4 separate regions of the Homo sapiens genome follow, and regions 1, 2 and 3 are each linked to region 4. Evidence: fine-mapped expression QTL. A gene starts in region 4. Each other region holds a variant in brackets. All regions are shown on one strand. Distances are from middle to middle.

The links.
Region 1: its variant is fine-mapped to the expression of ETHE1 in whole blood (TOPMed, PIP 0.95).
Region 2: its variant is fine-mapped to the expression of ETHE1 in whole blood (INTERVAL, PIP above 0.99).
Region 3: its variant is fine-mapped to the expression of ETHE1 in monocytes (TOPMed, PIP 0.95).

What each region holds. Positions count from the first base shown.
Region 1 is chr19:43,684,427-43,692,529 of GRCh38, forward strand. It overlaps the pseudogene LOC105372412. Among named protein-coding and RNA genes, the nearest start is that of PLAUR, 18 kb to the left of the region's middle. The variant G/A (reference allele first, on the strand shown) is at 4,148.
Region 2 is chr19:43,359,240-43,367,342 of GRCh38, forward strand. It overlaps CD177 (CD177 molecule), which reads left to right. Exons shown (of 9, transcript NM_020406.4): 6 at 1,026-1,166; 7 at 1,904-2,089; 8 at 2,206-2,340; 9 at 2,849-3,933. The coding sequence ends at 3,081. Among named protein-coding and RNA genes, the nearest start is that of CD177, 9.6 kb to the left of the region's middle. RefSeq lists an enhancer at 4,966-5,467. The variant C/G (reference allele first, on the strand shown) is at 4,903.
Region 3 is chr19:43,439,738-43,447,840 of GRCh38, forward strand. No RefSeq gene overlaps it. Among named protein-coding and RNA genes, the nearest start is that of LYPD3, 22 kb to the right of the region's middle. The variant G/A (reference allele first, on the strand shown) is at 4,155.
Region 4 is chr19:43,523,149-43,531,251 of GRCh38, forward strand. ETHE1 (ETHE1 persulfide dioxygenase) reads right to left here and starts at 4,053. Exons shown (of 7, transcript NM_014297.5): 1 at 3,949-4,053; 2 at 3,367-3,511; 3 at 3,053-3,201. The coding sequence starts at 4,029. It also overlaps a transcript of ZNF575 not described here. RefSeq lists silencers at 2,505-2,664, 4,015-4,204, 8,007-8,103 and enhancers at 2,699-3,204, 3,205-3,709, 3,225-3,404.

The DNA of each region.
Region 1 (8,103 bases), 160 kb after region 4:
TGTGCCCCTGGACAAGGCCTTGACTGCTGTGAGCCCTGGTTCCCTTTTTTGTAAAAGAGGGAACCCCAGGGCTGATTTCAGTTGTACTGGTTGTTAAAATATTGAGGTATGTCCAGATTTGGTTGATAAAATTCCCCTGCCTGGAGGCCTTGAGTGCCCTGATGGCATCTCTGGGTCCTCCCAGACATCTTCATATTCTAGAAAGATGAGGGAAAGACCGGGTCCCTGGAGGCCAACAGGCTGCTACTCTAGCAAGTGGGCAGGATTGTTACTACCAATACCCTGGCCTGTATTGACAGGTGGTCAAATATTTTGAGTATCCTCCGTGGGTGGGGTTAATGATAATGGCTGGTAGGACTACTGTAAGGATTTAGTGAGCTAATGTGTGTAATGAGTGATGAGGCAACCCATTATTATTTTATATTATTATTATTATTTCTTTTTTAGAGGAGAGTCTCACTGTCACCAAAGCTGGAGTGCAGTGGTGACATCATAGCTCACTGCAACCTTGAATTCCTGGGCTCAGGCGATTCTCCCACCTCAGCCTCCCTAGTAGCTGGGACTGTAGGTGTGCACCACCACGCCTGGCTAATTTTTATTTTTATTTTTATTTTTTATTTTGAGACACAGTCCCACTCTGTCGCCCAGGCTGGAGTGCAGTGGTGTAATCTTGGCTCACTGCAACCTCTGCCTCCCAGGTTAAAGAGATCCTTGTGCCTCAGCCTCCTGAGTAGCTGGGATTATAGGCATGTGCCACCACACCAGGCTAACTTTTTTTTTTTTTTTGAGACGGAGTCTTGCTCTGTCACTGGGCTGGAGTGCAGTGGTGTGATCCCGGCTCACTGAAACCTCCGCCTCCCGGGTTCTAGCAATTCTATTCTCCTGCCTCAGCCTCCCGAGTAGCTGGGACTACAGGCATGCACCACCACGCCCAGCTAATTTTTTGTATTTTTAGTAGAGACAGGGTTTCACCGTGTTGGCCAGGATGGTCTTGATCTCTTGACCTTGTGATCTGCCTGCCTCGGCTTCCCAATGTGCTGGGATTACAGTCGTGAGCCACCGCGCCAGGCCCTAATTGGCTTTTGCCATCCAGTGTTGGGCCTGGCCTTCTCCCGCAAGGGTGCAAAACAAGTTGGTAAAGATCAGAGAAGCTGGATGGGTAAGCCTGAACTGTGAAGTTAGATTTATCGGCAAAATGATGGGGCTCTTCAGTAACCTCAGGAAATGCCTTGGATATAGCACAGAGTTCAGCTTTAGTTCCAGAGACATAAGAAATCTGAGGACCTCAGTGTCGTTAGACAGCCTGGTCTTAAGGGGATAAGTTTTTATAGGTTGAGGTTGTGAAGCAGAAAGGAAAGGGGTGTTAGTGGGGAAAGACATCAGAAAAGAAAGAAAGAGAAGGGTTAAGAACCAGTAGATAAGGCCTGAGAGAGAAAGATTTGGGGCTTCAAATGCCTTTTTTTTTGGAGACAGAGTCTCGCTCTGTTGCCCAGGCTGGAGTGCAGTGGTGTGATGTCGGCTCACTGCAACCTCCGCCTCCCAGGTTCAAGTGATTCTCCTGCCTCAGCCTCCCGAGTAGCTGGGATTACAGGCGTGCGTGCCACCACGCCCGGCTAATTTTTTTTTTTTTTTTTTTTTTTTTAGTAGAGACAGGGTCTCACCATGTTGGCCAGGCTGGTCTCGAACTCCTGGCCTCAAGTGATCTGCCCATCTTGGCCTCCCGAAGTGCTAAGATTCCAGGTATGAGCCACGGCGACTGGCCCACCTGTCTAATTTTTAAATTTTTTTAAGACGCTGGGTCTCACTATGTTGTTCAGGCTGGTCTTTAACTCCTAGGCTCAAGCGATCCTCCCACCTTGGCCTCACAAAGTGCTGGGATTACAGGTACGAGCCCCTGCACCTGGCCACAACCTATTAATAGTAATAATAATAATAACAACATGTCCCCCTGTCCTTCTCTGGCCTCACTGAGTAGTCCCAGGCTTTCCCCACATGCCTCTCAGGACTTAGTTTCCCCATCTCGATGCTCTCTCAGTCCCCTCTCTTGCTGGGTGTCCCAGTGGCCAGGATGGTGGGTGGCACCGCTATCTTCCCGGCCTATTTGCTCTCCCTCTTCCGGGGCTGCTACCCTGGCCAAGGCCCTTGAATAAAAGGCAAGGGCACCTGTGTCCTGCTTCCTTCTCTCCTGCCTGGATCATGCTCTGGCTCTCTCTGCCCTGTTGCTCCTGGGAGCACTGGCTGCCCCAGCAGGTAAGCGCGTCATGGTCCATCAGAAAGGGAGAGGGTCGGCTCAAGGTCACATGTGGTGTTGGGAGTCTGGCTTCAGAGTCTGGGCCCCAGGTCCTTCCAACTGGGCTCATTGTCTAGCAGGCAGAAGAACAGGGCAGCTGAGAACCTAGTTCTGGAACCAGGCTGCCTGGGTTCAAATCCTGACTCTGTCACTTCTTAGCCGTGTGACTCCAGACAAACCACATAACCTCTCTGTGCCTCATTTTTTCCATGTGTGAAGTGGTGACAATGCCCCTGCCTCAGACAGTTGTTGAGACATTGGTTGAATCCACACGTTTGAGGAGCTCAGAACAGTGCCAGCCTGGCAGTGGCTCTGTTTGAGGGTGAGCTCTGCTGGATTATCCAGGAGCAGTTACTGTTACTCTTTTACCTCACCTGCCTGTCTCCCCTTTGGCTCTAATTCTGCCACCTTTGCCTGAGTTGGGAATTAAGTGGTTTGGATCCTAGCCAGGACCTCACTGTGCGATCTTGAATTGAAACCCTAAACCCAGCAGCTCCCACTTAGAGATTCTGTGATTCTCATCTCCAAACCTTTGTCTGCGTTGTTTCATCGACTTGGAATGCCATTCGCACTCCTCACAACAAAGAAGGTTGCTGATCTCCCAATGGCCCTCCCACCTCAGCCCTTAGTCCTATTCTTTTTTTTTTTTTTTTTTTTTGAGACAGGATCTCACTCTGTTGCCCAGGCTGGAGTGCAGTCGTGCAATCTTAGCTCACTGCAGCCTGAACTTTTGGGCTCAAGTCATCCTCAGCTTCCTAAATAGCTGGGATTACAGGCATGAGCCACCATGCCTGATTAGTCCTATTCTTGAATCGTGTGTGTGTGTGTGTGTGTGTGTGTGTGTGTGTGTTCTTTGTCCTTCTCAAACTGCAGAGTCTGATCACTGTTTTCTTCCTTGCAGGAAGCTCTAAGACATGTCCAGCCTGCTCTTTGCTGTGAACCTGCATTGAAATAACTTGTCCTTCTGCCCAGGACTTCTGCTTGTTTAGCCAGATGCAGCTGGGTGGGGGACCGGGCTGGGGACTGGACAGGGGCTGGGTGGAGAGAATGGACAAAGGCAGTGGGTGGAAGGGGGGCATGGATGAGCCATCCTGGGACTGGAGATTGCCAGCCCTGCCTCATAGCTCAGCCTGGTGCTACTGGGGTAAAGGGCAGAGGGCAGCTGAACAGCAAAAGAGGCCCTGGATTGGCCAGGGGGATGGCTATAGAGTGGGCAGAGGTCCTGGAGGGCTTGGAAAGCAGGGGCCCTAATCTCCCTTCCTCAAACTCTATCCCTAGAAAATGGGACTCTCATTGAGAAGGGGTCATGTGTGGCCCCTGGAGAATGCTAAGAAGGTGTCTACGCCCTGACCTACAGCCCCCATGCAAGCCTCTGGGTCAGCACAGCCTCTTGTGAAAACAACTGCAGCCACCTTCCCCAGTAAGGTTTGTTGGGAGGACCTCAGGCTCACACACCAGGGTAGGGTGTCATGGGGACCCAGCCTCAATTTCCTGCCTCACAGCTTTTTGTCTGGCTGATTGGGGCAAGAAGGAGACTCTCAGTTTTCTCATCTGGAAAATGGGTGTGATGTAGGTTTTAAAGGGTGTTCATCCCCTAGGCTGGCACGTGGTAGACACTCCTTTTGTTGCCATGTTTATTTGAATACTGGGAGGCTAAAGAGAACTCCAAGCTCTTTTCTGTTTCTCTGTCTCTCTCTCTCTCTCTCTCTCTTTTTGAGACAGAGTCTCACTCTGTTGCCCAGGCTGGAGTACAATGGCGCAATCTTGGCCTACTGCAACCTCCACCTCCTGGTTCAAACGATTCTCGTGGCTCAGCCTCACGAGTAGCTGGGATTACAGATGTACACAACCACGTCC[G/A]GCTAATTTTTGTATTTTTAGTAGAGTCAGGGTTTCGCCATGCTGGCCAGTCTGGTCTCAAACTCTTGACCTTCAGTGACCTGCCCGCCTGGGCCTCTCAAAGTGCTGGGATTACAGGCATGAATCTCTGTGCCCCGCCTCTCTTTTTGTCTTTAATAGAGGGGCTCCCCTTGAAGGCTAGTCAAACAGAACAAGAAACCTCACAAGTGGTGATAGGCCCAGGTCTAGGGGAGCCCAGCCAGGAGCCCAGGATGCAAAAATGTTTATTCTTTATTTTTTATTTTTATTTTTTTTGACAGAGTCTCACTCTGTCACCCAGGCTGGAGTGCAGTGGTGCGATCTTGGCTCGCTACAACCTCTGCCTCCTGGGTTCAAGCAATTCTCCTCCCTCAGCCACCTGAGTAGCTGGGATTACAAGCACATGCTACCACACCAGGCTGATTTTTTTTGTATTTTTAGCAGATATGGGGTTTCCCCACGTTGACCAGGCTGGTCTCCAACTCCTGGCCTCAAGCAATACACCCACTTTGGCCTCCCAAAGTTCTGGGATTACAAGTGTGAGCCCTCATGCACAGCCCCAGGGTGCAAAATTTAAGGAGATGCTCACGCTGAGGGGATAGCCCTCTACTTGCACAACCCTGAAAAGTCGTGCCTCCTTAAATTTTGGGCCCCTGGTTTCACCCTAGATCTGGCCCTGGGTGGTGACAAAGATCACTTTTCGTTGCTTGGTTATTTCTTCTAAGAAGGAATTTGTACTTGGCAGATGTAGCAATGGGGAGAGGTAGCCATCCTTTCAAACAAGTGCGATTTCCCTCCTCCTAATTTGTGTCTAATTGCCCTCCTAAATTGTGTCTCTCAGCAAAATAAAACCCCCAGGTTCAAGTTACGAGGTGGGCATGCTATTCAGTATATAAAATGTCAGGTATGATTATAACTGCATTAATTTTTTTTTTAGACAGTCTTGCTCTGTCGCCCAGGCTGGAGTGCAGTGGTACAATCTTGGCTCACTGCAACCTTCACCTCCTGGGCTTGAGCAATCCTCACACCTCAGCCTCCTGAGTACCATGGCTACAGACATGTGCCACCATGACTGGCTAATTTTTTTTGCATTTTGTAGAGATGGAGTTTCGCCATGTTGCCCAGGCTGGTCTGGAACTCCTGGGCTCAAGTCTTCCACCTGCCTCGGCCTCCCAAAGTGCTGGGATTATAGGCATAAGCCATTGTGCCCAGCCTCGGTCTCAAACACTCCTTGCAGCCCCTGAAAACTTATTCTGGGGCCAGGCGCAGAATCACTTTGGAGGGAAATGATCTGGATTGTGGGAGTAGAGGCAGTGAGAGAGGGAGGGCAGGAGAACAGAGGCCTAGTGAGGAAGGATGGCTGTAGGGGTGTTCCTCAGCCCCCACCCCGCCCTGACTTTGTCCACTCCCACCAGAGGCAGGGCCCAAGGCCAAGCCCAACACTGTGAAATGTCACTACTGTTCCAGGAATAAGTCGGCTCCATGAACTGCACTGGGAAACAGACTGCATGTGTCACCCTCCACGGGACCTGGAGTAGAGGTAAGGGCCCCTTCACAGGAGGTGATTTTTGTGGCAGGTTTCTTCCCACCTGCACAAATAAGGCTTGAGCTTCATTTGCACGTGCGTCCTGGTTATGTATTGCCATTTAACAAATCACCCACAGGCCAGGAGCAGTGGCTCACACCTGTAATCCCAGTACTTTGGGGGGCTAAGGTGGGAGGATTACTTGAGCCCAGGAGTTCAAGACCAACCTGGGCTACATAGCAAGTTCCCATCTCGAAAACAAAAACAAAAACAAAAAAACCCCAAATCACTCACAAGGTGGGTGGCTAAAAATGACAATCATTTAATGATCTCTTCCAGTTTCTTTGGTTTGGGAATTCAGGAAGAGCTCCTCTGGAGAGTTCTGAGTCTCTCGTATGTTGTAGTCAGAGGGTGTTAAGAGCTGGAACTGCTGGGGCAGGAACAACCAGGGGCTTTCTGAGCATCTCTTGCATATATGTAAGCACAGGCCTTTCTATGTGGCCTCTCCACATCGGTTAGATTGAGCTTCCTCCCATCATGGCTACCTCAAGGCTCTTTACATGGTGGCTAACGATTTCATTCAGCAAACAAAGTTACAGCTGCTTGGTCTTTATGTCTCAGCCTTGGAAGTCACATAATGTAACTTCTATTCTGCTTTATTGATCAAAATGGTCACAAAAGTTCCATCTGGTTTCAAGATGAAAGAGGCATGGACCCCACCTGTTGATGTGTCATAGATTTGCAAAGGTATTTTTAAATCACCAGTATGATTTGCAAACAGTTGGAGGAGAGGCCTTTTCAGCAAAAGATTTATAATATAACCACAGTAGCCAGAGGATAGACTAATTATGAAGCCAATCAAAGGATCGAGAGCAGTAGCCTGGGCTTCTGCTTTTGGCAGTATGGTGGACTCAATCCTCTAAAAGGTCTTCTGCTCCAAACAGTGGCACACTGGGAAGGTGGAGGACTGAGACAGTGAAATAGAGGAAGTGGCCCATCATGGTTGGGAGGAGCAGTTTATCACTGACATTGCTTAGAATTGCTGGTACTACCTGGTGATAATAAAAAGCAAACTGATTTTTAGTTGGTTTTATGATTTAAAAAAATTCTCTATAGGCTGGGCACGGTGGTTCATGCCTGTGATCCCAGCACTTTGGGAAACTGAGGCGGGTGGATCACTTGAGCACAGGAGTTCGAGACCAGCCTGGCCAACATGGTGAAACCCCATCTCTGTTAAAAATACAAAAATTACCTGAGTATGGTGGCACACACCTGTAATCTCAGCTACTTGGGAGGCTCAGGTAGGAGTGAGCCGAGATTGTGCCACTGCACTCCAGCCTGGGTGACAGAGTGAGACTCTGTCTCAAAAAAAAAAAATTCTCTATAGACACTAAGCCCCTTGTAGCCTGTTCCCAGGCTGGACTGCTCCCACTCCCTTCCCCTGCTTGGTATGCCACTGTTTACAGATAAACAAGATCCTGTACAGAAATATTTTTCCACACTTTTTGGGGTTGCAGAAAGTTAAGAAAATGTCCACGTGTCCCTAAGCAAAACAAAAATGTGAACAGAAATCATAATGGGAGCAGTGAGAAAACATGGAAGGCATGGTGGCCTGGGAGCAAATGCTGATAATAACCTGCTTTAGGTAAACAGGTCTTGGGCTGGCAGCATGCTTCTGGAATTTAGATTCCCACATAAGCAAGGGACCTCGGACAGAAGCCAAAATGATCCCTGGTCAGTAGCACCTCCTGGCACTCAGTAGAATCAAAAGCAATTCCTTCCCAGGGAAAAGCTCCCAGGATTCCCACAGATGAATATCAACCAAATATGAGCTCACAATCATAGTTCATGAAACGCACAAGGAAACAAGCCACCATGAGTGATAGCAGAAATAACAAATCACAGATACAGACCTGTGAGGAGCTCAGCTATTGTAATTATCAGCTGTAGAACATAGCGTACCGGCACGTGATATGTCTGAAGGAATAAACTTAGAATCACAAATGTGAGCAGGCAACAAGAGGTTGTAAAAACTGACCAGGTAGATTTGAAACTGAATCATATAGAACTACTAAGATGGCAACTTTCAGATAGCGAAAGATAGACATCAAGTTGGAAGGCTTGGACTCTGAGCCTCTTGTTGCAATCTCATCTCATTTCCACAGGGGGTCCCCAAATTCTGAAGGGCTGTGCTACACCAGAGGTCTGCAACTTACATGAGAATGCCACCCTGGGTCCAGAAGACTCTGGATTTCATCTCACCGCTAAGCCTGAATGCAACTGCCTTACTCCTACACATCCAGGTGCTTTGACCCCTGCCTTCCTAAAAACCCAACCTTTCTTACCTCCCTGGATCCCCTATGCTCTTTTCAAACCTATGTGTTCCCAGGGTGTCCACATTTCCTACGATAAT
Region 2 (8,103 bases), 160 kb before region 4:
GACTGGCAGAAACGAGCCGCCACGGGTGTAAGTAGGGGAGATGGGAGTGGGGAGAGAAGGGTGGGAGAAGGGAGCAGGAGCCATGATTTTGATTTTGTCATCTGTGAAGTATGCAAATGAGCAGCCCTCCAGGGTGGCATCGGTTCTGCAGGTCGCATGTGTTGGTGGAAGCTGGGGGCTCAGTCTAAGAGTCCCTGCATCATGGGACCGATCCCCCCTGCTCTGTGATGGCCGTGAGGGGAGGCCAGGGGCTGTGGTTTCACACTAGAGCCTTGAGGGCCTCGGGGCCAAGGTAGCCGAGGATGGTCTTCAGTACCTGTCTCCCTCCTGCTCCCAACCCCGACCCTGAGGGTCCAGAGTCCCTGGGTTCCCAGCCTACCTCTGCCACTCACAAGCTGTGTGGCATGGGCAGCTACTGAGCAATCCTGCCTCTGTTTCCCTTGTTGCAAATGAGGGTGTTGATTGTGATCACACCACCTACTGCTGGGGTGCTGTGGGGAAATGAGGCATCCCAGATAAGCTGTGTTCCCTGGAACCTTAGATGGGTGGATCTGTGGGAAGCAATGAGGTCAGCCAGGTGCAGAGGCAGTGCTCAGCGGCAGTGCTCAGCCCACCCTGGCCCTTCGCATCTTGTTTGGAACATAGGGCTTTGCAACTGAAAGGTATGAGAAAGGTCTCAGGCTGCCTTCCTTATTATTGAAATGAGGACCTTAAAGCTCAGATGGGGAAGCAGAGATGGGATGAGGATAAGGAAGAGCTTCCATTGCTCTCACAGCTAAAGCAAGGAACGGCCGTTCCCCCAGGGCTGTGAGAGGACGTCCCTGCGGGTGTTCAAGCAGAAACAGGGAACAATGGGGGTGGGATTTCGACTCCCAAGTCCCTTCTGAATCCTTGGTTAAGGGAATCTGTGGCCAGGTCACCTGGAGTGTGACTCAAGAGTGTGATCACCTTCCCTAGCCCAGGACGTGGAGGGACAGACATGGTGGGTTCCTGGCTTACACACACCCTGGGATTCCTCTCCCCAGATTTTCTGACCTGTCATCGGGGGACCACCATTATGACACACGGAAACTTGGCTCAAGAACCCACTGATTGGACCACATCGAATACCGAGATGTGCGAGGTGGGGCAGGTGTGTCAGGAGACGCTGCTGCTCCTAGATGTAGGTACGTGGACTGAGGTAGAAGACGAACACCTGTCCCAAGTCCCTGGCAGCTCCCTCCACCCCACTGGATTCTTTCCCCTGAATTTCCTGCTCAGCTCCCTTCACATCTGCAATTTTCAATCCGACTCTTCTTCTCTCTGCATCTTGGGTTCCCCTTATGAAAACTGGGGGTGAAGCAGTGGGAATGACAGTGTCTGCCTTTCTGGGGAGGGGTGACCACGTATGCGGTAATCCCTGCCCAGGGTGGAGAACCGTGCCAACACCGAGGACTCTCAGTGGCTTCATACATTCTGGAAATGTTTATCCAGCATTTGTTTTAGGTGCCGCAGATCCAATCCCATCTGTATTCCTGCAGCTTTATATGCCTTGAGAAACAGGAAACAAACAAACAAAAAGCAGCAAAGTATGGGGAATGGAGATCCCAGCTCTGCAGAGAAATCTGGCAAGGAAAAGGAGATAGGAAAAGTGAGGGGAAGGCTGCAATTTTAAGCTCAGTGCTCAGGGGAGACTCATGGAGAAGGTGACCTTTGAGCGAGAACTGGGAGGAGGCAGAGCTTCGGGCAGGACCCAGGCCCCAGCCTCCGTCTTTGCCCCACACTAAACATGACCCAGCAGTTGTGATCAGGGCATTCACCCTCTGCCTGGGGGGTATTGTGAAGGGCAGGGAGTCCAGCTCTGGAGCCCCTGCTGCCCTGGGAGCTGCCCAGTCCCCAGCCCAGCTTTCCCTCTCACCCTCAGGACTCACATCAACCCTGGTGGGGACAAAAGGCTGCAGCACTGTTGGGGCTCAAAATTCCCAGAAGACCACCATCCACTCAGCCCCTCCTGGGGTGCTTGTGGCCTCCTATACCCACTTCTGCTCCTCGGACCTGTGCAATAGTGCCAGCAGCAGCAGCGTTCTGCTGAACTCCCTCCCTCCTCAAGGTATGGGATCCAGGGCCGTGGAGAAATGAGGCCCAGACACACAGAGACTCTGGCCCAAGGTGGCCAGCTGCTCTGAGCACAAAGTCATGTACCCCCACCTTCCCTCTGCTCCCCAGCTGCCCCTGTCCCAGGAGACCGGCAGTGTCCTACCTGTGTGCAGCCCCTTGGAACCTGTTCAAGTGGCTCCCCCCGAATGACCTGCCCCAGGGGCGCCACTCATTGTTATGATGGGTACATTCATCTCTCAGGAGGTGAGTGCTGCAAGCAGGGCCCCAAGGATGAAGGCACTGGTGGCCTGGACTCCTGGGTCTGAGGGAGGAGGGGCTGGGGGCCTGGACTCCTGGTCCGAGGGAGGAGGCGCTGGGGGCCTGGACTCCTGGTCCGAGGGAGGAGGGGCTGGGGGCCTGGACTCCTGGTCTGAGGGAGGAGGCGCTGGGGGCCTGGGCTCCTGGTCCCAGGGAGGAGGGGCTGGGTGCCTGGACTCCTGGTCTGAGGGAGGAGGGGCTGGGGGCCGGGGCTCCTGGGTCTGAGGAGCTGAGGCTCTGGACTCCTGGGTCTGAGGTAGGAGGGACTGGGGGCCTGGACTCCTGGGTCTGAGGGAGGAGGGGCTGGGGGCCTGGACCCCTGGGTCTGAGGAGCTGGAGCTGGGGGTCTGGGCTCCTCGGTCTGAGGGAGGAGGGTCTGGGGCCTGGACTCCTGGGTTTACAACTTGGCTGGGCTGTACTCTGTGTCCTTTCTGACTTGGTCTTCTCCCTCTAGGTGGGCTGTCCACCAAAATGAGCATTCAGGGCTGCGTGGCCCAACCTTCCAGCTTCTTGTTGAACCACACCAGACAAATCGGGATCTTCTCTGCGCGTGAGAAGCGTGATGTGCAGCCTCCTGCCTCTCAGCATGAGGGAGGTGGGGCTGAGGGCCTGGAGTCTCTCACTTGGGGGGTGGGGCTGGCACTGGCCCCAGCGCTGTGGTGGGGAGTGGTTTGCCCTTCCTGCTAACTCTATTACCCCCACGATTCTTCACCGCTGCTGACCACCCACACTCAACCTCCCTCTGACCTCATAACCTAATGGCCTTGGACACCAGATTCTTTCCCATTCTGTCCATGAATCATCTTCCCCACACACAATCATTCATATCTACTCACCTAACAGCAACACTGGGGAGAGCCTGGAGCATCCGGACTTGCCCTATGGGAGAGGGGACGCTGGAGGAGTGGCTGCATGTATCTGATAATACAGACCCTGTCCTTTCTCCCAGTGCTGGGATTTCTCCATGTGAGGGGGCAGCAGGACACCCAGGGATCTAGCGTGGGGGAGGAGAGGAGCCTAATGAGAAAATGACCATCTAAAGCCTGCCCTTCATTGGTCTGGTTCACGTCTCCAAACCAGCTTGGATGGTAGCAGAGACTTCAGGGTGCTCCAGCCAAACGTATTTGGGCATCACCATGACCTGGGAGGGGAAGATGCACTGAGACGTATGAGGCTTCCAGCCTAGCAGCCAGGGCCCTAGCACAAACAGGAGGCTCGCCCCATCTGAGCAACTGCAGGAGAGGTTAGTACAGTCATGCATTGCTTAACGACAGGGACGTGTCGTTAGAAATGTGTCGTTAGGTGATTTTATGACCATAGGAACATTGTAGCGTGCACTTACACCAACCCAGATGGTACAGCCCAATACACACCCAGGATGGACGCTAGAGTCGACTGCTCCTAGGCTACAAGCCTGCAGTGCATGTTATGGTGTGAATACTGCAGGCAATCTTAACACCACGGCAAGTATTTGTGCATCTACACACATCTAAACATAGAAAAGGTACAGCATAAATACACTATTGTCATCTCAGCAGACCACCGTTCTATACGCAATTCGTCGCTGACCCAAACGTTGCTATGTAGCATCTGCGTATCGTGGGATAATTGACATGAGGGCTTGAGAGAACTCCAGAAAAAAATGGGTTAGCATTTTCCCAGAGCTGTTATCATTGGGTCTCTCTTACCACCATAGCCCAAAAAGGGTGAGGAGAAGAGCCACTGCTGGAATCTGCAGACAGAGAGAGAGAGAGAGAGAGAGACATAGACAGAAAGAGACAGAGAGAGCTGGAGAGAGAGCCGGAGACAGAAAGAGAGAGATATTCAGAGAGGGTTGCCTAACAAGAGCTCCCATCTCAGGCTGAAAAACGCGTCCAGCCCACAATGATACTGGGGAGGGAAGTGGGGAACTAAAATTCCAAACTGATGTCCTCACTCTGGTCTCCAGTTGAGGTTCCCCATTGACTGAACCCCCTAGAGGCCACAGAAGCAGGAGACTCCACTGGTCCAGCCCCCATAGATCTGCCATTCACACTACAGAACAGAGGAGAGGAGAGGGAAGAGGAGAAGAGAGCGAATCTGGAGAAGGAAACAGAACACGTCTAGTACCGTTCACTCCCTTGCCCCTCGGCATCCACCCTTTCCCTTTGTCCAAATGAAAATCAAAGTCCAGGACGGGCTCGGTGGCTCACGCCTATAATGCCAGCACTTTGGGAAGCCGAGGTGGGAGGATCACTTGAGCCCAGGAGTTTGAGACCAGCCTGGGCAACATAGTGAAACCGCTTCTCTACAAAAAAATACAAAAAATAAGCCGGGTGTGGTGGTGTGCGCCCCCTCCCTCTACTGGTCCCAGCTACTCAGAAGGCTGAGTCCAGGAGGTCAAGGCTGCAGTGAGCCAAGACTGCACCACTGCACTCCAGCCTGGGCGACAGAGCAAGACCCTGTCTCAAGGGGGAAAAATAAATCAGAGTCCTCCGTACAGATGACACACAATTCCAGTCCTTCCCT[C/G]TGTCACAGTAACAGTGTGTGATGGTGACAGTGATGTCCTCCTCCCATTGTGCTGGGCACCAGTTCTTCACCCACAATGAGAGAAAGATGGGGAGGAGATGGCTTCCAATACAGCTGCTGAGGTCCTGGGGGCGGGGCTGCTGGTGCTTAGAGCTGCTTTCTTCCAGTACATTCCACATTGTCTTCCCACTTCCAAAACCTCCTTTGGATGTTATTTGTTACCTGCAGTGTAACCCAAATCTTGATTCTTATGGAGAGTGAGTCTTGGATGGCCTTGTCTTTAGTGGGTTTCTGTAGTTTTCCATGGAACAGGGCCCTGGCCAAGGAAATGTTACCGCCATGAGTTGCCTGCCTTCGAAAATAGCCTCCTTGTCCCAGCCACCCGACCTCCCTCTGTAATCAGATGCCATTCCCCCGACTGCAGAGTGACGTCTCCTTTGCCTGCTGTTTTGGCAGCACAAGGGGCACAGGATGGCTGGAGGGCTGTCATGGCTTCCTGCAGATCAGAACTAGGAAGAGATTCCTCATCCACAGCAGCCCAGGGCCACGGGGACAAAGAGCAAGCATTCTCTCAGTGGGCTGGCAGGTGCAGTCACGGGAGGGAGCCGCGCTTATTCTTCCTGTCTTTCCTGGATCTTTGCATCTGGCCCTGGGGCGCGTGACCCGATAGCCTGGTTGCTGGTTTATAAGATGTGTGGCCCCTCCTGTGGGTGGTGGGGTACGGTCTCCCTCCCGGTGCCCTGATAAGCCACACATGAGCCATTGCGCCAATCTGAGAAGCAGCTGTGTCTGTATAGAGGGGCACCTGAGACGGTCAGTGGGTTCCATGGGTGTGAGTTAATTACCCCCCATTCTTTGCGTTAACACGTGTCCCCAGTGGAAGCAACCCTGCATGGGTTCCAGAGCCACAGGAAAGGCGCTGTTCACAGAAGCACTGAGCAGGGTCCAGGGAAGGCCAACTGGAACCCCCAGTGTGTGCGTATCCGTGTGAGGACAAAGCCCAGTCCCCTCCAGGATGGGACGTGTCCTGTGTGGCCAGCCTATCTGCAGTGGCCGGGTAGTCCTCCTGTAAAATGACGCCTTCCAGGGGCTTAGCCCCGGGCTCTGCCTACACTGGGCAGGGCTGGATACAGTGTGCAGCCAGGCCAGTGCTGGGAGACTCAGTCCACTTGTGGTAAGGTATGTCGCCGTCCTCCCTATCCATGTGGCCATCTGCACCTGGACCCCCTGAACAAGCTCTGAGGGACAGAGTCTGCCTGACACCATCCACCAAACACCAAGAACCTCATCCCCACAGCACAGGTTCTGGGCTTAAGGGTGGGGACGGCATAGCTCACACTTTGTGCCCATCCCCAGAGGAACATCCATGTGTCCTCCCTGTCTTAAGTTTACTCTTTTATTCTCTTCAAGTCCTTGACCATGTGGCCCGCTCTGGGTTCATGCAATGGACCCAAGTCCATCCCTCCTTGCAGAACCCCTGAGGTTCTGCCCATCTGAAGGATTTCCCTTCATCACTCCTCAGGACCACCTGAAGTGGGCACTAAGGCAGCCGCCGTCCACTTCTGCTGGGCGCCAGCTCACCGTGAGGACCCATCCATAAGCCTGGTCTGCACTTTCCTCCTCTGTATGAGGTCACAGGGCTTCCCAGGAGCTCACAGATGTGGTAGAGGGAGGGGCAGAAGGACAGGTGCCATGGGAGCCTGAGTCACTTGCTGGCCTCAGACCTGCTTGAGCCTGACCCCATGCTCAGCTGTCCCGTGGATGCTGGAGGCTGCTGTGCATGCCCCAGGTTATGGTTTGGTAGCTCAGAGAGCACCCGGCCCTGAACTTGATTGCACTTGGCCCAGGGATGAGCCAAGAGCTGCTTTCCGAATGGTCAGAGTTACCTGCAGGAGGAGGCGCGGAATTTCTCTAGAACCTCCAGCTCTGCACTGTTAATCTTTTGGAGCTTGTGAAAATCTCCATAAAATAATGCACTAGATTTGAAACATAGACTCTCTTACATTTTTTCGTTTCTAAATATACTCTAAATATACTCATCCAGGAGTTATCGAGAATAATATTTTGCAATTCCAACTGGAGTAATGTACTGGGAAGTGCTGTGGTTCATTTCTTTCTTTCTATTTTTTTTTTTTTTTTTGAGATGGAGTCTCGCTCTGTTACCCAGGCTGGAGTGCAGTGGCGTGATCTTTGCTCACTGCAACCTCCGCCTCCTAGCTTCAAGCGATTCTCCTGCGTCAGCCTCCCGAGTAGCTGGGATTACAGGCACCCGCCACCACGACCGGCAATTTTTTTGTATTTTTAGTAGAGATGGGGTTTTGTCATGTTGGCCAGGCTGGTCTCAAACTCCTGACCTCAGGTGATCTGCCTGCCTTGGCCTCCCAAAGTGCTGGGATTACTGGCGTGAGCCTGTGCTTCATTTCTTTTATAATTCTATTGTGGTTTAAATGGCCCGTTGCTTTCCTAATTTGTGGGTATTCCCTGTATCACCTATTGTTTACTTTCTACCTCTCTGATATTTACCGTATATGAATTTATCAATCCTGATTTTACTTCTTCAAAGCCAGTATGAGTTTAGTCAAGTCTGATTTCCCCGTACAGGATGAAAGGTTTTTGTGGGCGTCAAGCAAGAACATTGTAGGATGCTGAATAGGATCTGTATACATCTCAAGTTGTCTAGGAAGCAGGGACATTTGCTCCTTCTTATCTTGCTGGGATTTCTGTCACTAGCAGTTGGAAGGGACTCCAGTTTTAAGACAAAGGTTTACAATTTCTTTAGCACCAAGAAAAAAAGAAGCATAAAACTGGAGAGAAAAGGGTATAATATTATGTTCAGCAAGGAATATGGAAAATATAATCTTTTGAATCTTCTGAGTTAATTAATCTGTACTCTGAGATGGGCAGAAATGAGAACCACGTCCCCATCTCTGCAATAAATTCCCTAGGTTTGGATTTTAGCCAAGAAGTTTCTGCTTTCCTGGAGAATGTCTCTGAATTTAAACACCACACCTCAAAGCCAGAAAAGGGAAAGTTTACTTTGGGCTTTGATCCAAGTTTTCAGTGGCTGGAAACACGGTTACACTCCTGGAGACAAGGTGGCCTTGGACACCCAGGAAGAGCCCTGCTCCTGGGCACACCTGGCCCTGGAGCCAGACCACCTGGGTTTGAACCCCAGCTCCGCACCTTACCAGCAGAGCTTCC
Region 3 (8,103 bases), 83 kb before region 4:
GACATATGAGAAGGTACAGATGACCCAGAAGAACCATCCAGCCAAGCCTAGCTAAATGCCCTACCCACAAACTCAGAAGCTAAAAAAACATGCTACTGAGCTTTGGGGTGGTTTGTTACACAGCATTATTGTAACTAACCAATACAAGAAACCTGCAGCTGCTCAGCCAAATCCTGAAGCTAGCCTGCTTGGATTTGAAACCCATCTCCATTACCTGTCAGCTGAGTGACTTAACTTCCCTGAGCCTTAGATCTCTCATCTATAAAATGGGATAAGAGCAGGTCTAACCCAACAAGATGGTTCCATCATTCAGGAAACAACAGTTTATGGGGTTCCTCTTGCTCTGTGTGAGAAAGAGACAACAATGACCAAGACAGACTAGGCATGATGGCTCACGCCTGTAACCCCAGCACTTTGGGAGGCCAAGGTGGGAGGATTGATTGAGCCCAGGAATTGAAAGCCAGCCTGGGTAACATAGCAAGACCCCATCTCTAAAAAAAAAAAAAAAAAAAAAAATTAAGAACCTGGGAGGCCGAGGTTGCGGTGAGCCGAGATCGCGCCAATGCACTCCAGCCTGGAGGCGAGAGCGAAACTCCATCTCAAAAAGAAGAAAAAAAAAATTAAAAATTAGCCAGGGGTGGTAGCTCATGCCCATAGTTCCAGCACTTTGGGAGGTCAAGGTGAGAGGATCACCTAAGCCCAGGAGATTGAGGCTGAAGTGAGCTATGATCACACCACTACATTCCAGCCTGGGCAACAGAGCAATACCCTGTCTGTAAAAAACCAAAACAGTGACCAAGAGAAAGTTCCATATGCATAAAAAGCAAACAGATCTACGATATGAAGTCAGGTAGAGAGAAGTAAGTGCTCTGAAGAGAAGCACAACTGACTAAAGGACGGAGGCTGTGATGGGGAGAGGAGATACTGCTTTCGATAAGGTAGTCAGGGACGCCCACCAAAAGGAGATGACATCCCAGCCACGTGTGAATGAAGAGACCATGAGGGAGGTTTTCCCAGCAGAGGGAATGGTGGTGCCAAGGTGTAGAAGCGGGCATGAGATTGGTGTGTGTGAGCAATGGAAAGAAGGCTGGCAAGAAGAGGCAAGTGGCAGAATGGCAGGAGGCGGCATCTAAGAGGCAGGCACAGATCAGAGTATGGGGATAATGGATTTAGGAAGTTTTTTGTTTGTTTATGTTTTTGTTTAGAGACAGAGTCTTGCTCTGTCACCCAGGTTGGAGTGCAGTGGCGCGATCTTGGCTCACTGCAACCTCCATCTCCTGGGTTCAAGTGATTCTCCTGCCTCAGCCTCCAGAGTAGCTGGGATTACAGGCATGCACCACCATGCCCGGCTAATTTTTTGTATTTTTAGTAGAGACAGGGTTTTGCCATATTGCCCAGGCTGGTCTCGAACTCCTGAACGCAAGTACTCCACCCACCTCAGCCTCCCAAAGTGCTGAGATTACAGGCGTGAGCCACCGTGTCCAGCCATTTTTTTTTTTAAGGCAGGGTCTTGCTCTATCGCCCAGGCTGGAGTATAGTGGCACAATCATGGCTCACTGCAGCCTCAACCTCCTGGGCTCAAGCTATTCTCCTGTCTTAGCCTCCCACGTAGCTGAGACTACAGGCACAGGCCACTCCTAGCTTGGAGTGTGGATTTTATTGTGATTAAATTAGTTGTCAACCTAGATAACAAACAGCGAGAGGCTCTCTAAAAGAAACAAAAATTGGTTGGGCGAGGTGGCTCACGTCTGTAATCCTAGCACTTTGGGAGGCCGAGGCGGGTGGATCACTTGAGGTCAGGAGTTCGAGACGAACCTGACCAACATGGCAAAGCCTCATCTCTACTAAAAATACAAAAATTAGCCAGGCATCATGGCAGGTGCATGTAATCCCAGCTGCTAGGGAGGCCAAGGCAGGAGAATCAGTTGAACCCGGGGGGTGGAGGTTGCAGTGAGCCAAGTTCATGCCACTGCACTCCAGCATGGGCGAAAGAGTGAAACTACATCTCAAAAAAAAAAAAAAAGTTTATTCAAGAACAGAGAATTGCAATGGGAATAGGAGTGTTATACATATTCAAGGAGGTCAAAGAAGACAAAGGTTTTTAAAGAAAAAAAATGAGGAGAATTACATAATGGTTTTGAAATAATCATCTTTGGCTAGAAAAATGAATCACAAAGATGATGCCAGTCTGGGGTTGGACAGGCAGTTGCTGGGCAAACGTCCTTGCAGAAGTATTTTTCTGTGTAAGTTTGCAATGGTCTTTGTGTGAGATTGTGTTTTTTGCAGTTTTTTTGTGATAGTTTTTGTGATCAGTCATACAAGTATGAGAACCCTCTCTCCATGGCTTTCCTTCACTCTGTTGGTCGGAGCTTTTTTTTCTTTTTCTTTTTTTTAACATGAGTGACTCCATTTTGATTCTGATAACCTTCAAAAGTTCATATGTGCCTGGGTCATGGGGACTGCTTAGTAAATGCTAGCTTTCACTTTACTATTGGAATTTTTACCTCCAAAATGCAGCATCTCCCCATTCCAAGGTCCTAAGTAGAATGGAAGAGGAGATGCCAGGGAATCTTGACAAGGGAAACTTTCACGGTTGACTCTACATTTGAATTTCTATAGCAGGATTAAGTCTGTGTATTATTTACGTGATTTAAAAAGGCCGAGTGTGGTGGCTCACGCCTGTAATTCCAGGACTTTGGGAGGCTGAGGCAGGTGGATCACCTGAGGTCAGGAATTTGAGACCAGCCTGGTCAACATATAATGAAACCCCATCTCTACTACGAATATAAAAATTAGCCAGGCATGGTGGCATACACCTGTAATCCCAGCTACTCAGGAGGCTGAGGCAAGAGAATTGTTTGAACCTGGGAGGCAGAGGTTGCAGTGAGCCAAGATGGCACCACTGCACTCCAGCCTGGTGACAGAGCGAGACTCTGTCTCAAAAAAAAAAAAAAAAAATCTAAAAATTAGCTAGGCATGGTGGTGCACACTTGTGGTCCCAGCTACTTGGAAAACTAAGGCAGAAGGATCGCCTAAGCCTAGGAGGTCAAGGCTGCCATGAGCTGCGATCACACCACTGCACCCCAGGCTGGGTGACAGAGCAAGACCCCCTCTCACAAAAAAATTTTTAAAAAGATAATGTTAAATATATGTTAGTAGATAAATGTTCACAAAAATCATTAGTGTTGAAGGAAGTGAGGAAAAGATTAAAGGGTGTATTAGTCCATTCTCACACTGCTATAAAGATACTACCTGCTATAAAGATACTGGCCAGACAAGGTGGCTCATGCCTGTAATCCCTACTCTTTGGGAGGCTGAGGTGGGTAGATCACCCGATGTCAGGAGTTCAAGACCAGCCTGGCTAACATGATGAAAACCCGTCTCTACTAAAAATACAAAAAAAAAAAAAAAGTCAGGCATGGTGGCAGGCACCTGTAATCAGCTACTCAGGAGGCTGAGGCAGGAGAATCACTTGAATCCAGGAGACAGAGGTTGTGAGCCGAGATCGCACTACTGCACTCCAGCCTGGGCAACAAGAGGGAAACTCTGTCTCAAAAAAAAAGATACTACCTGAGACTGGGTAATTTATAAACAAAAGAGGTTTAATTGACCTGCAGTTCCACATTGCTGAGGAAGCCTCAGGAAACTTACACTCATGGCGGAAGGGGAAGGGGAAGCAAGCACCTTCTTCACAAGGTGGCAGGAGAGACAGTGCAGGGGAAACGGCCACTTATAAACCATCAGATCTCATGAGAACTGCATGGGGGAACCACCCCCAAGATCGAATCACCTCCCACCAGGTCCCTCCCTCCACATGTGGGGATTACAATTTGAGATGAGGTTTTGGGGGGACACAGAGCCAAACCATATCACCAGGGTTAAGATTTATAAATTGCTCTGTGAACCCCGAAAATCTGAGACAGGTCTCAGTTAATTCAGAAAGTTAATTAGGAGACCAAGGTTGAGAATGCACGCACATGACACAGCCTCAGGAGGTCCTGATGACACGTGCCCAAGGTGGTAGGGGCACAGCTTGGTTTTATACCTTTTAGGAAGACATGAGACATCAATCAGTAGGTGTAAGATGTACATTGGTTCAGTCCAGAAAGGTGGGACAACTCAAGGTGAAGGCAGGAAACTGGAAGAAAGGAGGG[G/A]GCTTCCAGATCATAGGTAGATAAGAGAGAAGTGGTTGCATTCATTTTTTTGAAATGGAGTCTCACTCTGTAACCCAGGCTGGAGTACAGTGGTGCTATCTCGGCTCACTGCAACCTCCACCTCCTGGGTTCAAGTGATTCTCCTGCCTCAGTCTCCCAAGTAGCTGGGATTCCAGGTGCCCACGACCACACCCAGCTAATTTTTGTATGTTTTAGTAGAGCAAGGGTTTCGCCATGTCGGCCAGGCTGGTCTTGAACTCCTGACCTCAGGTGATCCGCCAGTCTCGGCCTCCCAAAGTGCTGGGATAACAGGCATGAGCCACTGCGCCCAGCCAGTTGCATTCTTTTTGTTTTTTGTTTTTTGTTTTTTTTTTTTTTGAGACAGAGTCTTGCTCTGTTGCCCTAGGCTGGAGCGTAGTGGCGCAACCTTGTCTCACTGCAGCCTCTGCCTGCTGGGTTCAAGTGATTCTTCTGCCTCAGCCTCCAGAGTAACTGGGATTACAGGCATGTGCCACCATGCCCGGCTAATTTGTTGTTGTTGTTGCTGTTGCTGCTGCTGTTGTTGTTGTTGAGACGGAGTCTCACTCTGTCATCCAGGCTGGAGTGCAATCGTGAGATCTTGGCTCACTGCAACCTCCGCCTCCCGGGTTCAAGCTATTCTCATGTCTCAGCCTCCCGAGTAACTGGGATTACAGGCACCCACCACCACGCCTGGCTAATTTTTGCATTTTTAGTAGAGACGGGGGTGTCGCTATGTTGACCAGGCTGGTCTCGAACCCCTGACCTCAGGTGAACCATCCGCCTCGAACTCCCAAAGTGCTAGGATGACAAGCATAAGCCACCATGCTGGTAGTTGCATTCTTTTCAGTTTCTGATTAGCCTCTCCAAATGGGGCAATGAGATATGCATTTATCTCAGTGAGCAGAGCGGTGACTTTGAATAGAATGGGAGGCAGGTTCACCCTAAGCTGTTCCCAGCTTGACTTTTCCCTTTAGCTTTGGTGATTTTGGGGCCCCAATATTTATTTTCCTCTCACAGCTCAGAACTGTGCTTGGTGCCATGAGTGTTTGTCGCATAGCTGTTGGTAAATGCAGGATGGGCATTGCAGGCAGAAGGAACAGGAAGTGCAAAGGTTCTGAGAAGGGAATGGGTCTCTGTGGCTAAGGCTCATCCAGGAGACCTGCGTGGCTGCAGCGGAGCAGGCAGTGGTTAGTGCAAGAAGTTGCGGCCAGCACAGCGGTCAGGGCCAGACCCTGTGGGCATGCCAAGGGCACAGTGCTTCCGCTAAATGAGAAGAGAAGCCACTGGAGTGTTTCAAAAGTTAACCATTATTGGCCAGGCATGGTGACTCATGCCTGTAATCCCAATGCTTTGGAAGGCCAAGGTGGGAGAATTGCTTGAGCCCAGGAGTTCAAGACCAACCTGGGCAACAAAGTGAGACCCCATCTCTACAAGAAATTAGACAGGTGTGGTGGCACACACCTGTAATCCCAGCTACTCTCCAGGCTGAACTGGGAAGATGGCTTGAGCCTGGGAGGTCAAGACTGCAGTGAGCTATGATCACGCCACTGCACTCCAACCTGGGTGACAGAGTGAGGCCCTCTTTCAAGAAAGAAAAAAACTAATAATAATATTGTTCAATGAAATTTACCAGAGGCCACTAGTTTGGACCAAGCTTCTGTGCAAAGCCCAACAGACCAAACCAAAATGGAGTCACTCGTGCTAACTTCCACATCACCAAGCCAAAACTCAATTGTTTTACCTGACCTTCCAAAAAATCAGGAGAGTGAAAGATAACAGCCAAGTCCCCAAGCAGGCCAGTTTTAGCCTGCATGATAAGGAAACCCCTGTCCTTTAACCTTTACAAGGAAAGTAATTTTGAAATGGCCAATACACTTTTTCTTCTCTGTTTCTGCAGTCTCTGCCCTTTCTGTCTATAAAACCAACCTCTTTTGCTCGACTCATCAGAATACTCATTCTGTCTCTTATAATTCGATGTTGCCCAATTCTAAAATCACAAATAATAACCAGTTAAGATCTTTAAGCAGGCTGGGCACAGTGGCTCATGCCTGTAATCCCAGCACTTTGGGAGGCCAAGGCAGGTGGATCACTTGAGGTCAGTAGTTCGAGACCAGCCTGGCCAACATGTATCTTTTGTAAAGACATAAAAATTAGCCAGGCATGATGGTGCATACTTGTAATCCCAGCTATTTGGGAGGCTGAGGTGGGAGGGAATCTATAAGCAAATTTGTTGTGATTTTGTCTTTTGACAGTTCAAGGACTGAACACTTTCTCTTTTTTTTTTTTTTGAGACAGAGTCTTGCTCTGTCACCAGGCTGGAGTGCAGTGGGGCAATCTTGGCTTACTGCAACCTCCACCTCCCGGGTTCAAGCAATTATCTTGCCTCAGCCTCCCGAGGGGCTGGGATTACAGGCACCTGCCACCACGCCTGGCTAATTTTTGTATTTTTATTAGAGGTGGGGTTTCACCATGTTGGCCATGCTGGTCTCGAAATCCTGACCTCATGATCTGCCTGCCTCAGCCTCCCAAAGTGCTGGGATTACAGTCATGAGCCAACACGCCTGGCCGGACTAAGCACTTTCACCTTTATTCTTTTCTGTCTCCAAACTCATCCACAATCTCACCCAGCTTGGACTCACCCCTGGCAGTTCATCTCCACCCTGACCTTGCTTTAGCAATGATCTTTCATTTCATTCATCCCTTCTTTTGGGGCCTTTCCATGACTCTAGACTCTGAGGGTATACAATAGTGAGCAATGCAGACTCAGATCCTGCCCAGAACATTCCCTAACACACAGTAGGTGTTCATTAAAAGCTTTTAGAATGAATAAGAATAGTTGTTTTTTTAAGACCCTACTAACAAAATAAAAAGTTGACATCCTTAATGCTTGACCCTCCAATTTTGTCTTTGAAGCTTGATGGTTCACAATCTCCAAACTGGTTTACAGCACAAAGTCCCAATGCCAAGGTTCTTTCCCAAATGGGCCTGACCTAATTCCCCAGCCTCATCTCCCTGCTCTCTCCCAGGTTGCTGCACCCAGTTCCGGACACAAGGCATGTTCGCTCAGGCCTCTGCACGTGCTCCTTGTTATTTAAGATCCCGCTCCTGGTCTTATCCATCACGACCTCTGAGAAGATGTCCTGGAAACCCAGACAGAGCTTTGTCCCTGTGTCTGCTGCAGATTTAGGTGAATGTTGGTGCAAGTGCATTCGCCAAATAGCAGTAGTACTTTCCGAGAGTCCAGCCAGGGGCTGGATGCTGATGCTTAGCTGACATTGCTGCTCCAAGCCGCCAGAGGGCGCATGGAAAACACCAATCTGACTTGCAGGGTGAAAACCCTACAGGAGCTCCCAGTTTCTCGTATAATTAACAGTTAAGGTGCCACTGTTCTTGTTTTGTTTGTTTGTTTTGAGGCAGGGTCTTGCTCTGTCACCCAGGCTGGAGTGCGGTGGCGCAATCTCGGCTCTCTGCAGCCTCGTCATCCTGGGCTCAAGTGAACCTCCCACCTTTTGACACAGAAAAGTTGGCTTATCAGTGGTTCATTTTGTTAACCCATGTTCATGAGTTTCTTGTGATGTGCTAATTTACTGCTGATATTTAGGATAGTCCTGTTGATCCTAATAAATTCCTAATTGTTGTTCTTGTTTCATCGGTTCACCGTGAACCAGTGGATGTTGTCTCACTCTTATCCCTGATGCACACTGGCACTTTTATATGAAGTGCCCTTGATGACACTAGTGATGATGGTTGTCACTAGAGTGGTACTTGCATTCTGGATTATCTTACTGCACTTTAGCTTGCTAGGTGAGCACTCAAACTCCCTAGTAGCTGAGACCACAGGTGCGTACCACTCAGCTAATTTTTGTATTTTAGCAGAGATGGGGTCTCGCTATATTGCCCAAGCTGGGCAGACTCATGGGCTCAAGTG
Region 4 (8,103 bases):
GGGAGGCAAGGAAGACTTCTGGGGTGATGGGCAAGTTCTGTATCGGGATCTGGGTAAGTACTCATACACATGTATAATATGTGGACTCCTTTCATTCCATGAATGTTAACAACTCGGTTTTGTTTGTTTGTTTGTTTGTTGAGATGGAATCTCGCTTTGTCACCCAGGCTGGAGTGCAGTGGTGCGATCTTGGCTCACTGCAACCTCTGCCTCCCGGATTCAAGCAATTCTCCTCCTGCCTCCTCAGCCTCCTGAGTAGCTGGGATTACAGGTGCCTCACCACCATACCGCTTAATTTTTGTATTTTTAGTAGAGACAGGGTTTCACCATGTTGGCCAGGCTGATCTCGAACTTCTGACCTCAAGTGATCCGCCCACCTCAGCCTCTCAACGTACTGGAATTACAGGCATGAGCCACCACACCCAGGCTAACAATTCATTTTTTTAAAGTAGAAGGAAAAATAAAGGAGAGAAAAATGGACCCCCATCTCCAAAATCTCAGACAAGCCAGCCATGGTGGCTCACGCCTATAATCCCAGCACTTTGGGGAGGTCAAGGTGTGCAGATCACCTGAGGTCAGGAGTTTGAGACCAGCCTGGCCAACATGGTGAAACCCTATCTCTACTAAAAATACAAAAATTAGCCAGACATGGTGGCACATGCCTGGAATCCCAGCTATTTGGGAGGCTGAGACAGCAGAATCGCTTGCGCTCAGGAGGCAGAGGCTGCAGTGAACTGAGAGCTTGCCATTGCACTCCAGCCTGGGTGACAGAGCAAGACTGTCTCAAAAAAATAAATAAAAATGTGCCTGGGCGCAGTGGCTCATGCCTGTAATCCCAACACTTTGGGAGGCCAGGGCGCGCGGATCACCTGAGATAGGGAGTTGGAGACCAGCCTGACCAATACGGAGAAACCCCGTCTCTACTAAAAATACAAAATTAGCTAGGCATGGTGGCGCATGCCTGTAATCCCAGCTACTCGGGAGGCTGAGGTTGCGCTAAGCTGAGATAGCGCCATTGCACTCCAGCCTGCGCAACAAGAGCAAAACTCCATCTCAAATAAATAAATAAATAAATAAAACAAAAAAATTTGCTGGGCTTGGTGGCGCACGCCTGTAATCCCTGCTATTTGGGAGGCTGAAACAAGAGAATCACTTGAACCCGGGAGGTGGAGGTTGCAGTAAACCAAGATCGCACCACTGCACTCTAGCTTGGGCAACAAAGTGAGACCCTGTCTCAAATTAAAAAAAAAAAAAAAAAAAAGTTGCCTAAGGCTGAGGGGGGAAAAGGGAAGGATAGGGGTGATGGCTAAGGGGTGTGGGGTCTTTTTGGAGTAATGGAAACATTTTCCAATTAATGGTAGTAATGGATGTACAACTCTGAATATACTAAAAGTCATTGAATTGTGCACTCGAAATAGATAAATTATATGGTATGTGGGTTATATCAATAAAGCTATTAAGCCTGGGCAACATAGTGAGATTACAGCTCAACAAAAAATTAAAAAATTAGCCAGGTATGGTGGCAGGTGCTTGTAGTCCCAGCTACTTAGGAGGCTGAGGCATGAGGATCACCTGAGCCCAGAAGGTCAAGGCTGCAGTAAGCTATGATCCCACCATTGCACTCCAGCCTGGGTGACAGAGCAAGACCTTTTCTCAAAAACAAACAAACAAACAACAACAACAAAAAAGGGTGGGTGCAGTGGCTCATGCCTGTAATCCCAGCACTTTCAGAAGCCCTGTAATCCTAGCACTTTAGGAGGCCAAGGTAGGAGGATCACTTGTGCCCAGTAGTTCAAGACCAGCCTGGGCAACATAACAAAACCCTGTCTCTACAAGAACATACACAAATCAGCCAGGCGTGCTGGTGCATGCCTGTGGTCCCAGCTACCAGGGAGGCTAAGGTGGGAGGATCACCTGAGCCTGGGAGGTCAAGGCTGACTGCACTCCAGCCTAGGTGACAGAGACCCAGTCTCAAATAAAAAAAAAAAAGAAAGAAAGAAAGAAAGAAAAAAAAAAAACACTGAAGCTAAATCTACCATAGCTAAACCCTTCGTTCATTTCAAGACATGTTTGTTAGCACCTATTATGTACAATGTACATACATGTACAATGCATTTTTGCCTGCTTCCAGAGAAAGGCTTGAAATAAAGCTTCTGTAACCATTGTAGCTGAACTCTCTTCCCACACACAGCCCTCATTTCCTCTAAACACTCTGACTCAAATGAACTGTCCCTATTTGGCAAAACTCTCTAACCTGGAGGCTGTCTTCTGTCACCTGACATTCTGTCCCCAAAGTCAGCCAAACTTTATTATACATCTTTAGCAATTGATCAGAAGAATGCCCTGCCAGCTGTTTCCCTCTCTCTGAGGGCAACTCCCCTGGCCCTCCCTCCTTCGGCCTGGTTGCAATTCTGGCCGGAAACCCGCTGGTGCCTGTGGCAAATAAAGTGAGGAAGGCAGGAACCTTTAGACTTCCCAGTGTGAGGCAACGGCAGGGCTAGGACTAGGGTGAGGCTGTTGGTGCAAGATTTAAGGAGGCGCTCACTCACAGGTGCGGACCCTGCACTTACAGGACCCTGAGAGCGAGTGCCTCCTTAAATGTTGCACTCCAGGGTCCTCACCGTCCTTTTCCTAGTCCTGGGCTCCGGGTTCTAAGCACCCAGATGCTCCTTCCTCAAACGGAGGTTTCCGCAAGACAGGACTGGGTCTCTTTCCTTCTCAGCCCTGCCCTCAGAATTCCAGCCCCTAATCAACTTTTATGGAGATGCATGCCAGGCCAAAGGGCTGCCCCTAAGCTTTAGGAAGGAAACTCCTTAAATGCTGTTGACTTAGGAGTTCCGCCAGTGCCCCACCTGCCCAGAGCCTCTTGCCCCAGTGCCCCACCTGGGTTTATGGTGCCCCCCTCCCAGAAATATGAGCTCAGGGGTCAGAAACCCAGGTCCTGAGGTCCCTCCTCCCCAAGGACTCAGGATCCCAGGCCCCCAGTCCCCTCTTCCCTTAAGTTTAAGAAGTCCAGGCCACCACCCTCTTGGGGACCCAGCACCCAACTCACGAAGCGCCCGAAGCGGATGGAGTCTCCATCCTCAATGTGTAAGTCAGCCTGGGCCCCACTAAGGCGGGAGATGACAGACTGGCAGCCAGGGAGGAGGGAACGGAGCAGCCCCGAGCCTGTAATGTGGTCCGCGTGGCAGTGGGTATTCACTGGGAGAGAGAGGAGGGACAGGTCCGGAGGGTACAGAAAGGACCTGGGAGTCCCAGCCCAGATCCTTCTCCCTCAGACTCAGGAGTTCTGGGCCCCAGCTTCCCATTCCACTGACGCTGCAGCCCAGCCCCGCTGGGATCCATGAGTTTGGTCCCCGGACTGACCAGCATAGAGCAGCCGCAGCCCCAGCTCCTTGATCAGCTGGGCATCCCGAGGCGCTGTTTCCAGGACTGGGTCGATCAGAACGGCCTCCCGGGACTCTCTGTCACCCAGCAGGTACGTGAAGGTGCAGCTCACAGGCTCGAACATCTGGGAACGGGGGACCCAGGTGAGGGCGCAGAACCGGACTTCCACCCACTGGAGGCCAAGTAGTCCAGACTGACCCTATCCTCTTCCTAAGATCCAGAAGCAGAAACCCCAGCCCACTCTTTCCCCGGGAGTCGGGAGTCCGGAGCCCCACTACCTTCCCCTATCAGAACAAAAGAGTTCCAACTTCCTAACATCCCAAAATCAGGGTCCCCAGCACGTTCTTTCATAGAGGACCCAGGGGTCTGGCCCCAAGCCCAGAGGCCCCCAGACCACTCACCTTTAAAGGACCCAAGAGTCCAGCCCTAAACCTCCACCCCGCTTTCCGCAAGATGCAGGCGTGGGTCCCCCCGGATCTCTCCCTATTAAGAGACCCCGGAGTTCCGTCCTTGCTGCCGCCTAGTGCCCAGCAGTCCCCTCCTAGGTCCAGCCACCCGCACCTGCCGCAGGAGGATGGGGGCTCCAGACCCGCCGCGCTGGCTCAGCTGCCGCCGGGCGACCCTCAGTACAGCCTCCGCCATCGCGCCCACTGCGGGGTCAGGAATGAGCGGAGGCCGAGCGCCTGCAGGAGCCGGGCGCTACGGCACTGACCCCGGGAAGGGCGGGGCGGGGGCGGAGCACGCCTTAAAGGGGCCACGGACGCCTGGGGCAGAGGGCGGGGGACCGCCGAGCGGGACTGGGGCGAGGGCGAGACCGAGGAAAGCCAGAGTGCAATGCCTGGACGCTTTGAGACCCAGAAAAAACAGAGAACAGGGAGACACTCAAAGTGCGAGGGACAGACGCTCAGAGACACACAGACATACTCATGTAGGAACAGAGATAGGGAGAGAAGTAGAAACCCAGGGAGAGGCCCCAGTACACTCATAGCCTCGGGGCCGTTTTTTTTCCTTTTTCTTTTGTTTTATTTTGAGACAGAGTCTCGCTCTGTCACGCAGGCTTGAGTGCAGTGACTCGATCTCAGCTTACTACAGCCTTAAACTCCCGGGTTCAAGCGATCCTCCAACCTCAGCCTCCCGAGTAGCTGGGACTATGGCACGTTGCCACCACACCCGACATTTTATATATATATATTTATATCTATATATATATTTATATACATATATATATATACACACACACACACACATACATGTATATAAAATTTGTTTTTTGCAGAGACGGAGTTCTCACTATGTTGCCCAGGCTGATCTCGAACTCCTGAGCTCAAGCGTTCCTCCCACCTTGTCCTCCCAAAGTGCTGGGATTACAGACGTGAGCCACCGCGTCCCGTGGGGCCGTTTTCTAGCAGGTGGTAGGATAGTCATGGTTAGAAAAAGATGTTCGGTTCCGGGAGGCAGAGGTTGCAGTGAGTAGAGATGACGCCACTGCACTCCAGCCTGGGCGACAGAGGGAGACTCTGTCTCAAAAAAAAAAGATATTCGTTCGGTTCCAGGTCATTAATATCTTGAGGGACTTTTGAGTGGGTGCCTGGTTACCAGAACAACACTTGATCCCATTAAAGTTCATCCAGAAATTGCATAAGCATTTTATCAGGAATGTTTCTCTCTTTCCAGGAAGAAATCTTAAAAAAAAAAAAAAAGATAATTTTGCATTATCTCTTGAATAATCAGATTGGGGATTATTCATCTTCTGTTGGGGTGTGAACCTCTGAAAAGAGCTTGTGTTCATTTACACCAAGGACCTGGGGCTGAAAAACTGTAGTCTCAAGTCATGAGCTGTCAGAAAGTCTGCTCTTTGTAATCGTAGCAGTAGTGAGAATAGGACATCCCACTCTCATCTGGAGGATCTATGTCACTTTGTGACATCAGAGCAGCCTTGATTTCCAGCCTAGGGGCAGAGCTTTTTTTTTTTTTTTTAATTGTTAGAATTTTTTTTGTAGAAACAGGGGTCTTGCTATGTTGCCTAGGCTGGTCTCCAGCTCCTGGCCTCAAATGGTCCTCCCACCTGGGCCTCCCAAAATGCTGGGATTACAGGTATGAACCACTGAGTTATCCTGTCCCACAGCTTCTGAGGAGGGGTTTCCTGCAACAACATTTATCTTAATTCTGGAGTTTCCAGGGAATGGTCCCTGGAGCTATTTTCAGAGCAGCCCCTGTGTGAATGCCTTTACACAGAGAAGGCCTGCTTTTCCTTAAGCCTATCAAATTGCTTCATTAAAATTTTATGTGGCCGGCTGGGCGCGGTGGCTCATGCCTGTAATCCCAGCACTTTGGGAGGCTGAGGCGGGCGGATCACGAGGTCAGGAGTTCAAGACCAGCCTGACCAACATGGTGAAACACCATCTCTACTAAAAATATAAAAATTAGCTGGGTGTGGTGGTGCACACCTGTTATCCCAGCTACTCAGGAGGCTGAGGCAGGAGAATTGCCTGAACTCGGGAGGTGGAGGTTGCAGTGAGCTGAGATCGTGCCACTGCATTCCAGCCTGGGTGATGGAGACTCCATCTCAAAAAAAAAAAAAAAAAAAAAAAAAAAGCATATGGCTGAGCTCATGCACAGGCACTTTGAGCACTTTGGGAGGCCTAGGTGGGCAGATCACTTGAGGTCAAGAGTTTGAGACAGCCTGGCCAACATGGTAAAACCCCATCTCTACTGAAAAAAATAAAATAAAATACAAAAAAATTATCTGGGCGTGGTGGGGCACGCCTGTAGACCCAGCTACTTGGGAAGCTGAGGCATGAGAATCATTTGAACCCAAGAGGCAGAGGTTGCAGAGTTTGCAGTGATCCAAGATTGCACCTCTGCAACATAGCAAAACCCTGTCTGGGCAACAGAGCGAGAGTGTCTAAAAAAAAAAGGCCAGGTGCGGTGGCTCACGCCTGTAATCCCAGCACTTTGGGAGGCCAAGGCGGGTGGATCACGAGGTCAGGAGATTGAGACCATCCTGGCTAACACGGTGAAACCCCGTCTCTACTCAAAAAAAATACAAAAAATTAGCCGGGCATGGTGGCGGATGCCTGTAGTCCCAGCTACTCTCGAGGCTGAGGCAGAAGAATGGCGTGAACCCGGGAGGCGGAGCTTGCAGTGAGCCGGGATCGTGCCACTGCACTCCAGCCTGGACGACAGAGCGAGACTCCGTCTCAAAAAAAAAAAAAATTCCAGGCATGAGGTCTCATGCATGCCTGACTCAAGCTAGACAAAGCTGAGGACCCAGAGGTGACTCAGTCTGGCTGGTAGGCGAGAGAGGTAGGGAAAGCAGGTCTGAGACACAGGGAGGTGTAGGGATTTGGGGAACTCAGGGGAGGGAGGAGCCAGGGAAAGGAAGACCCTCAGGCACTCCTTACTGAGAGGGTCCCCCAAATAAGAACTTCTCGCCCCTGGCACCCTTTCCCGTTGTTTTTGCAGAATTTCTAGACCATTTATGTGTCCTTTGAAGACACACCCTAGGCAGGGTTTATAGGCTCAGCTGTGAGATGTTCTAAGAGTTAGACTTGGCTTCACCCTTCTCAGGTGTAGGACCTTGGGCTGAAAACTTATCTTCTTCTGGGTTCCAGTTTTCTTATCTACAAAATGAGGTTGAAAATAGTTCAATAGCCTGACATAGCACAGGCTCTCAATGGGAACTGCCCATCATTATTTTGTCACTATCCTTGACTCCTTCCTACCCTTGCCACCTCCACCCACTTCCAGGCCCTGCTGAGTTAAACTCTCTCTCTTTTTTTTTTTTTTTTTTTTTGAGATGGAGTCTTGCTCTGTTGCCCAGGCTAGAGTGCGGTGGTGCAATCTCAGCTCACTGCAACCTCCGCCTCCTGGGTTCCAGAGATTCTTCTGCCCCAGCCTCCCAAGTAGCTGGGATTACAGGTGCACACCACCACACCCAGCTAATTTTTGTAGTTTTAGTAAAGATGGGGTTTCACCATGTTGGCCAGGCTGGTCTGGAACTCCTGACCCCAAGTAATCCACCTGCCTCAGCCTCCCAAAGTGCTGGGATTACAGGGCCGAGCCACCGTGCCCAGCCAGATTTAACCTATCTTAACCAGGCCACTTTTCTGTTATCACACCCTCTGCCCCATTCAAGGGGCAGCAAAGCATAAATGCAAATTGCCTGGACTGCAGGGCCAGGCTGAGGGATTCAAATCCTGGCTCTGATACTTCCTGGCTGGGATGACCTTCCCCTCCACACTTCATTTTCCTCCTCTGTACAAGGATGATAGTAGCACCTCCTCTTAAAACATTGCTATGGGGATTAAATAAATTAATGCACATAAGGACAGTTTCCAGTGTATAATAAGTGCTAGCAATTAATACTGTAATTAATATATAACAATACCCTCACTGGTCTTCTGGCTTCTACTCTGCCTTCTTAAAATCATGGTTCTTGAAAATAGCTGTGGCCCTAGAGGTTGGGCGCGGTGGCTCACACCTGAAATCCCAGCACCATGGGAGGCCGAAGTGGGCGGATCACCTGAGGTCAGGAGTTTGAGACCAGCCTGGCCAACATGGTGAAACTCCATCTTTACCAAAAATACAAAAAAAAAAAAAAAAATTAGCCAGGCGTGGTGACGGGCACCTGTAATCCCAGCTACTCAGGACGTTGAAGCAGGAGAATCACTTGAACCTGGGAGGTGGAGGTTACAGTGGGCTGATATCTCGCCA